Linked DNA regions of Homo sapiens: region 2 is linked to region 1. The links come from fine-mapping of genetic effects on plasma protein levels. A gene starts in region 1. The other region holds a variant in brackets. All regions are shown on one strand. Distances are from middle to middle.

What was found. A credible set is the group of variants that fine-mapping cannot tell apart. PIP is the posterior inclusion probability: the model's chance that the variant is causal. Protein levels are from antibody-based Olink assays in UK Biobank. Linkage for the fine-mapping came from a reference panel and not from the study's own genotypes, which makes the PIPs less certain.
Region 2: its variant is the best candidate, but not a certain one, in a credible set for the plasma level of the ADD1 protein (UK Biobank, PIP 0.87).

The regions. Positions count from the first base shown.
Region 1 is chr4:2,841,177-2,845,560 of GRCh38, reverse strand. ADD1 (adducin 1) reads right to left here and starts at 1,717. Exons shown (of 16, transcript NM_001354761.2): 1 at 1,537-1,717. RefSeq lists silencers at 1,256-1,405, 1,526-1,715, 1,776-2,155, 2,256-2,305 and an enhancer at 2,434-2,945.
Region 2 is chr4:3,044,175-3,048,558 of GRCh38, reverse strand. It overlaps the pseudogene RNU6-204P and HTT-AS. Among named protein-coding and RNA genes, the nearest start is that of HTT, 28 kb to the left of the region's middle. RefSeq lists an enhancer at 490-849. The variant T/C (reference allele first, on the strand shown) is at 1,944.

The DNA.
Region 1 (4,384 bases):
TTTAAAACCTAAAGACACCACAAGTAGAAAACTAACAAATCATACCAGCTGTCCATACCATTGTAAACCACATCGAAACTCTGAAAAGCAGTTTTGACTGCCCAAATCATCCACTTCCTGAAAAGACAACTTTACTATTCTAGTTTTCTCCACTGTCAAAATCAAAGGAGTATATTAAAATTTTAACGTAGGCCAGGCGCGGTGGCTCACGCCTGTAATCCCAGCACTTTTGGAGGCCTAGGCGGACGGATCACGAGGTCAAGAGACTGAGACCATCCTGGCCAACATGGTGAAACCCCGTCTCTACTAAAAATACAAAAATTAGCTGGGCGTGGTGGCGCGCGCCTGTAGTCCCAGCTACTCGGGAGGCTGAGGTAGGAGAATTGCTTGAACCTGGGAGGCGGAGATTGCAGTGACTGGAGATCGCGCCACTGTACTCCAGCCTGGCGACAGAGCGAGACTCCGTCTCAAAAAAAAAAGGTATCATCGCGGGCCTTTGTCCATTCAAGGCTCCAAAGTTTACAAACTCACTTTCATACAATTCACACCCTCTGCCTGAAATGCCCTCCTCTCTCTGGTGCCTGTTGAACTCCTACTCATCCACTCCAAGCTTGTTTTCACTAGGCGCCTCTACTCATAGACACAGTCGACCTATCAGCATTCTATTTCCTATCCCCATTAAGATCTCAGTCAATTTTTCACACAAAAAATCTTTCTTTAACTTACCAGTAATGCATACAGCTATCAGCTATGTCTTTGGTCTTTGGAGATATGACAATTGCTTTTTGTCTTTCTAAACATAAATTATGCTCAAACCAACAACAGTTTCAGGCGAACCAAAATACGTTTTTCAAGGTGGGTATGCATAAAGTGAATGCAAATTACCTCCCAACTATCTTGAGCCATTACAAGAGCAAAGATAAAAGTCATCCTAACAGGGAAAGGCCCTCTGACATCTCCCAAAAAACGAAAATAAAAGATTAAGAAAAAAGAAAAGAGAGGGAGGGCAAAGGTGACCAACAGCCCCATCGCTGATAAAGTTCCACGATTATCTCTCGAGCGTCCGTCGGCAGATATGGCTTTTCTCTTTTGGCAGAAGCCGTCGTTTTTAAATACGAGAGCCGACAGATGCGTCCGTACACAAACCTTGCAGCCACCAGCGCTGCGGACCGCGGAACCGGTCTCACAAGCAGGATGCTGACCAGCGTCCAGCCAGGGTCGTCCTCCTCCGCCCCCACCCCTGCAGCCCACAAGCCGGCCAGGAACGAGCGGCCCGGGAAAAGCCTAGTCCCCGGGGTCCTATCCCGATGAAAGATCTGCGGCGCCCTCGCTCCCCGGCTCGGCCCAGGCCGAAGGCCCCGCGGGGACCCCTCCAAGACGCCCTCGGCGCCGCAGCGGCCTCCCCGCCCCCGAGGCTGCCCGGGCCGCCGCAGGCCCCGCGGCCCCCGCCCGCCGCAACCGCGGCCCAGTTCCCCGCGCCCCCGCCGCCGCCTCAGCCCGAACCGGGCCCCCGCCGCCCCCGCTAGCTAGCCTCACCTCAGAAGCGAATCGTGGGCAGCGCGCGGGATTCCGGGGTCCCAGTGCGGCCACCGCCCGTCGGCTCCGGCTCCGGCTCCGCCCCCGTCCCCTGGCCCGCAGCAGCGGCCCGCCAGGCCTCTCCGCCCCTCAGCCCCTCCGCTCGCCCCCACCGCCCGACCTGGGTGCGGCCTGCGGCGCTGCAGCCCAACAACGCGCCGTCCCATAGGCCAAGCCGCGCAGCACTGCCGAGCAACGTACCCTGCGATTGGCGGGACCCATGAGGGGCGGGTCCCCTGCGGGCAGGGCGATTGGACTCGCCAGGCCCGCCTCGGGGCGACCCCGCCGGGGCCTGCGGAGGCCCAGGGTCCCGCGCGGAGTACACCCCGGCCGGCAGCTTCGGGCGCCAGGTCATGGCTTCACGGTGGCCAGGTAGACTGCGGCGAGCCCCTGCCGGGTCCGCTGGACACGGTTTCATTGTGATTGACCTCCGCCGGAGGGGCTGTCGGAGCCCAGGGACCCTGCCCTCCCGCCGCCGCCCAGCGCACTCCCCCAGCAGACGGGCCCTGCCCCGCGTAGCCCCGCCTTGTGCAGTCCCCAGGCCGAGTTTTGGGGCCCGGGTGGGGTCAAGGCAGCAGGGCCTGTGGGCCCCGATAAGGCTCCACAGAGGACAACTGCCTGGCCCCCGGGCCCGGCCTGCGGGTGCTGAGGAGACCAGCGAGCACCAGCCACCTCCGCACGACCAGGGAGTGAGCCTGCGGGGCTTTGGCAGGACCAGCCTCAGACCAGCACCTTCCCGCACACTGTCCCTCCTGCTGGCGCATCTGACACCCAAAAAAACAAGCAGCGAGACAAATGGGCACGGCTGCTTGTCCTCTTGACACCCATAGAAAGCTTAGGTCCAGAGCTGGGCAGTGGCAGAAGAGTGTGGAATCCAGACCTCCCTGCTCAGCAGGAGCCTCTGTGACATTGCCCCAACAAGGGTCAGGGATACTGTCTGGATGGAAGCCAGCGACCCCTGTTCTAACCATTTCTGTTGGACGTTGGCTTTTCCAAGACGATTTTTCTGACAAGATCACAATTCTGTCTCATTCACTTCTGCTTCCCATAGTTAATCACTAGGGAAACGCAAATCAAAACCACTGTGGGATACCACTTAACATTCATTAGGATGGCAGTTGAAGAAGCAGGGAGTTGGGCGCAGTGGCTTCAGCCTAAAATCCCAGCACTTAGGGAGGCAGAAACAGGAGGATAGCCTGAGCCCAGGAGTTGGCAGACTTGACTGGACAACATAAGGAGACCCTGTTCTCTACAAAAACGAGAAGAAAACAAAAAGTTTCAAGGGGGGAGAAGGAGGAAGAAGAGGAAAAAAAGAAAATAAGTGTTGGCAAAGATGCGGAGAAATTGGAACCCTTTGTGCATCGCTGACGGGAATGTAAAATGGTGTGGCTGCTGTGGAAAACCGTAGAGTGGTTCCTCAAAAAATTAAACATAATTACCACATAATCCAGCAATTCCACTTCTGGATATATACCCCAAAGAAATGAAAACAGCTATTTGTACCATGTTCATAGCAGCATTATGCAGAGAAGGAAATTCTATTTATTGGGGTTTTGTGCCTTTTTTTTTTTTTTTTTTTTTTTTTTGGAGTCAGGGTCTCTGTCGCCCAGGCTGCAGTGCAGTGTTGCAACCATGGCTCACTGCAGCCTTGACCTCCTAGGCTCAAGGGATCCTCCTGCCTCAGCCTCCCAAGTAGCTGGGACTACCAGCACGTGCCAACATGCCTGGCTAATTTTTGTTATTTTTTGTAGAGACGGGATCTCACTATGTTGCCAGGGCTGGTCTCAAACTCCTAGGCTCAAGCAATCTTCCCAAATCCAAACTCAGCCTCCCAAAGTGCTGGGATTACAGGCATAAACCCATAAACCACGATGCCTGGCCAAAAGAAAGGAAATTCTGACGCATGCTACAACATGGATGAACACTGAAGACATGCTATGTGAAATAACCCAATCACAAAAAGATAAATGTATGATTCCACTTGTATGAGGTGTCTAGAGTAGTCAAATTCAGAGAGACAGGAGGTAGAATGGTGGTTGCAAAGGGCTGGAGGAATGGGGATTTAGTGTTTAATGGGTACAGAGTTTAAGCTTGGGGTGATGAAAAAGTTCTGGAGATGGATGGTGGTGATGACTGAACAATAATATGAATATTCGCAAAGCCACAGAACTGTACACTTTAAAATAATTAAAATGATAAACTTTATAATATGAAAATTTTATCATAATAAAACAATTTTAAAGCTATTAAAATATTCCTTCCTTTTCCAACTACAAAAAAGTAAAAAGGTCCAGGCGTGGTGGCTCTTGCCTGTAATCCTAGCAATTTGGGAGGCCAAGGCGGGAGGATTGCCTGAGCTCAGGAGTTAAGAGATCAACATGGACAACATGGCAGAACACTGTCTCTACTAAAAATACAAGAAATTAGCTGGGTCTGGTGGCAGGCACCTGTAATTCCAGCTACTCAGGAGGCTGAGGCACAAGAATTGCTTGAACCCAGGAGATGGAGGTTGCAATGAGCCAAGATGGCGCCACTGCACTCCAGCCTGGGTGACAGAGACTCTGCCTCCAAAAAAAAAAAAACAAAAAAACAAATACGGTCTTAGGTGAGAGTTTTAAAATACATTGAGTTAGAATTAGATATATACAACAATAATATCAAGTAATGAGGGAGACCAATGAAAGTCACCTGAGGTCCTTATGTTGTCCAGGAGGAGGATAAAAGTATTTATTAGTTAACTCTAGACTTCAGTAAGAATAGAGAGTGTTTAACTTTCTAACTAGGAGAAGGGGGGAAATGAAATGATTTG
Region 2 (4,384 bases), 200 kb before region 1:
TTATCTAGCTCATTGTCTGATCTATTTGATTTGGGGTGGTTTGGTGTATAGGGACCCTGGGTAAGGAGCATACTGCAAACTCTTGGTATTATCCTCCCAGTAATCATAATAATAGTCTCCCTGGTGCGCTGCATTCTCTCAAAGGTTTTAAATGTCTGCATGCAGCCATCTCTAGAACAACAAATGGTCTCTCTTCAACTGGAATGGCAGAAGCTGAAAGAAATGTGTGACCATGAGGACACCGTAACCTATGAATGACGTGCTGAGACCAGAAACCCAAAACGATGGTAACTGAGAGTGGTGCTAAGGCCCTAAGTTTTGGTCACACTCTCGCCTGTAGGGTCCAGCCCTACTGGGCCTGTGGGTTTTTCTCCTCACCTGCGGAGATGAGAGATCACAGAAATAAGGACACAAGACAAAGAGATAGAAGAAAAGACAGCTGGGCCCAGGGGACCACTACCACCTAGACACGGAGACTGGTAGTGGCCCCGAATGCCTGGCTGCCCTGTTACTTATTGGATACAAGACAAGGGGGCAGGGTAAGGAGTGTGAGTCATCTCCAATGATAGGTCAGGTCACGCAAGTCACGTGTCCACCGGACAGGGTGCCCTTCCCTGTTTGGTAGCCGAGGCGGAGAGAGAGAGGAGACAGCCTACGTCATTATTTCTTCTATGCATTTCAAAGACTTTAGCACTTTCACTAATTCTGCTACTGCTATCTAGAAGATGGAGCCAGGTGTACAGAGCGGAACATGAAAGTGAAACAGGAGCGTGACCGCTGAAGCACAGCATCACAGGGAGATGGTCAGGCCTCCGGATGGCTGTGGGCGGGCCTGACTGATGTCAGGCCTTCCACAAGAGATGGTGGAGCAGAGTCTTCTCTAACCCCTCCGCCCCTCTCCCCTGGCCAAAGGGAGACTCCCTTCCCTGGTCGGCTAAGTAACAGGTGCCTTCCCAGGCACTGTCATTACCACTAGACCAGGGAGCCCTCTAGTGGCCCTGTCTGAGCGTGACAGAGGGCTCACACTCGTCTTCTGGTCACTTCTCACCCTGTCCCTTCAGCTCCTATCTCTGTATGGCCTGGTTTTTCCTAGGTTATAATTGTAGAACAAAGATTATTATAATATTGGAATAGAGTAATGCCACAAACTAATGATTGATAATAGTCATATCTAATCATATCTATAATCTATTTCTAGTATAACTATTCTTTTTGTTTTGTTTTGTTTTGTTTTTGTTTTTGTTTTTTGAGACAGAGTCTCGCTCTGTCACCCAGGCTGGAGGGCAGTGGCGCAATCTCGGCTCACTGCAAGCTCCGCCTCCCGGGTTCATGCCATTCTCCTGCCTCAGCCTCCCGAGTAGCTGGGACTACAGGTGCACGCCACCACGCCCGGCTAATTTTTTGTATTTTTAGTAGAGACGGGGTTTCACCGTGTTAGCCAGGATGGTCTCGATCTCCTGACCTCATGATCTGCCCACCTCGGCCTCCCAAAGTGCTGGGATTATAGGCGTAAGCCACTGCGCCCGGCCTAGTATAACTATTCTTATTCTATATATATATTTTTTATTATACTGGAACAGCTTGTGCCCTCGGGGTCTTGCCTTGGCAGCTGGGTGGCTTGCCGCCCACACTCACCTAAGTGAGAACCTGGACAGAAAGGGGAATTTATTAAAATAAAATTATGGGAGGCCATTGTTTTGGACTGAGCTCATGCACTATGTCCCAACAGACTAAGCCAAACAAAAATGGAGTCACTCATGCTAAATGTGACATAATCAAACTAAGACTTTAAGGAAACACATAGATCCTAACAGATTCCCCTATAAACAGGACGTTCCAGCATAAGGAGGTACCCTCAGTCCTTGTTCCTACCTTTGCAAAACTCACTGTTCTACTGTTTCTCAGAGGGTTTCAGGACCAAATAAGTACATTTACGATGGTGA[T/C]AGTGACATCAATGACTAAAGTTTTGGTCAATCTCTCAAAATTGAGAAAATGACCAAAAGGGTGGAATTGTTAAAGCAAACTAAATATGGCCTGAGAAGGACTCCATACTTCTCTATTTGAGTCCTTGTGGACGAACTGCAACCTAACTTAATTGGTAGACAAGACTGAAACCCTGACATCCTCACTTGGGAGTCTGCACCTGTGGCAGTACCTGAGTCTTGGCCAATCCCAGCAGCCGTACTTCACTCGTACACTGCTGAGAGTTCAAACTGTGTCCAAATAAGGCAAATGCCGAGCTGCAACCAACCCAGCTGTTTCTGTACTCACCTCCAATTTCTATATGTCACTTCCCTTTTTTGTCTATAGATTTGTTCTGACCACGAGGTATCCCTGGAGTCCCTCTGAATCTGCTGTGATTCTGGGGGCTGCCCAATTCGTGAATCGTTCATTGCTCAATTAAACTCATTTAAATTTAATTTGGCTGAAGTTTTTCATTTAACAGAGGTATATAATATGTATTCTTTAAAATGTTCAAACACTGTTTTGAGTGCATATTGTGCTTTTTTGTTAAAAAAAAAATTATGATGTGATGTTTACTGCTCCCTTGAGGTACATAAGAAAATCCTAAAACCCCTGCCAACTGAGCGGACCGCTTCTTGGTCGAGGAGACCTCAGAGAAACCTTAAAAACTGAGTTCCTGGCCGTGACAGGACAGGTCAGACTCGCCTCAGTGTGCCCCTTCCTTAATACCCTTTCACTGGAATGCCTTCCTAAAGAATAAACAGAAACCAGCTCTAGAAAAAAAGAACAGACATCTCACTCTTCTATTGCCTTTAGCCAATCATCTGAGGCCACGGCCAGGCAATGCTTCCCTTCCTGGTAAGAGACCACAGAGCCTGCAGTGGCCGTGGCCGTCTCCAGAGGCGGTGCAGTGAGGGTTCTCGTGTCCTCTGCTTCACCTTTTGACGTCAGAGGGAGGAAAACCACATCCTCCGATCACGCTAACCCCAACATTTTTTGAACACGTGACCCATGAAGAGGCATGAAGCTAACTGCACACTGGGTGTTGCTCCCCTCACAGATATTCATAACTCCTCCTACAGCGTATTCCATATGTATATTCAGCCACCCTGAGGATCTAGGGGAAAAGCGCAGTGTCCTTTTCCTGTTCTCTCACTCAAGAATCAACACAGAATACTTCTCCCCACCCACAAGCAAGCAATCAGTTCTGCAGCGGACACCAGCTGGGTGTCCTCTCATTCAAGTCTGACGGCATCTACCTGTAGACAGCGCCTGACCACACAGATCGAGGACTCAGTTCCCACAAGACTGAACCCCGTTTCCAATGCCAACTGCAAGCCCCTGGTTATTTGGCCTGTGATTCTGACTGACCTGCTAAACATTGGGGGTTCCCACAGCCCCCTCCTTGGGTTCAATTAATTTGCTAGATCAGCATACAGAACTCAGAGAAACACATTTCCTGGTTTATTACAAGGCATATTTTACAGGATACAGATGAACAGCCAGATGAGAAGATGCATAGGGAGCGTTCTGGAAGGGTCCCAAGCACAGGAGCTTCTGTCCCCGTAGAAGGGAGGTGCGCTGCCCTCTAGAAACCTCCACGTTACCCGGAAGCTCTCTGAACCCTGTCCTCTTGGGTTTTTATGGAGGCTTCATCACATAGGCATGATTTAATCATTAGCCATTGGCGATCAGCTCAACCATCAGCCCCTCTCCCTTCCCAGAGGGCAAGAGTAGGGCTGAGTCCCAACCTTCTAACCCTACCTTCTTCTTTCTGGTGACCAGCCCCACCTCCTATCTTGAAGCTGTCTAGGAGCCACCAGCCACCTCATTAACATACAAAAAAGACATTCATCACTTTGAAGATTCCAAGGATTTGGGGAAATATATGCCAGGAGACTGAACGAAAACCAAATATAACTTCACAATATCATGGATGACTGAAATATGTAATAAAAGATTAAGCAGGCCAGGCACAGTGGCTCACACCTGTAATCCTTTGGGAGGCTGAGATGGGCAGATTACTTAAGGCCAGGGGTTCGAGACCAGCCTGGTCAACATGGTGAAACCCCATCTGTACTAAAAAAAAAAAATTAGCCGGTGTGGTGGTGGTGCCTGTAATCCCAGCTATCCGGGAAGCTGAGGCATGAGAATCACTTGAATGCAGGTTGCAGTGAGCCGAGATCACGCCACCGCACTCCAGCCTGGGCAACAGAGCGAGACTCTCAAAAAAAACATTAAAAATTTAAGCAGCCAAATGACATGGAAAGAAATAAATCACTATATTAATTATATAAATAGCAAACAAAATGTTGATACGGATTGCCTATGCACAGCAGCTAATATTAAAGACGAGATTTTGTGTTTTTTCTTTTTTTAAATATATTTTTGTATGGAACGCTTCACAAATTTGTGTGTC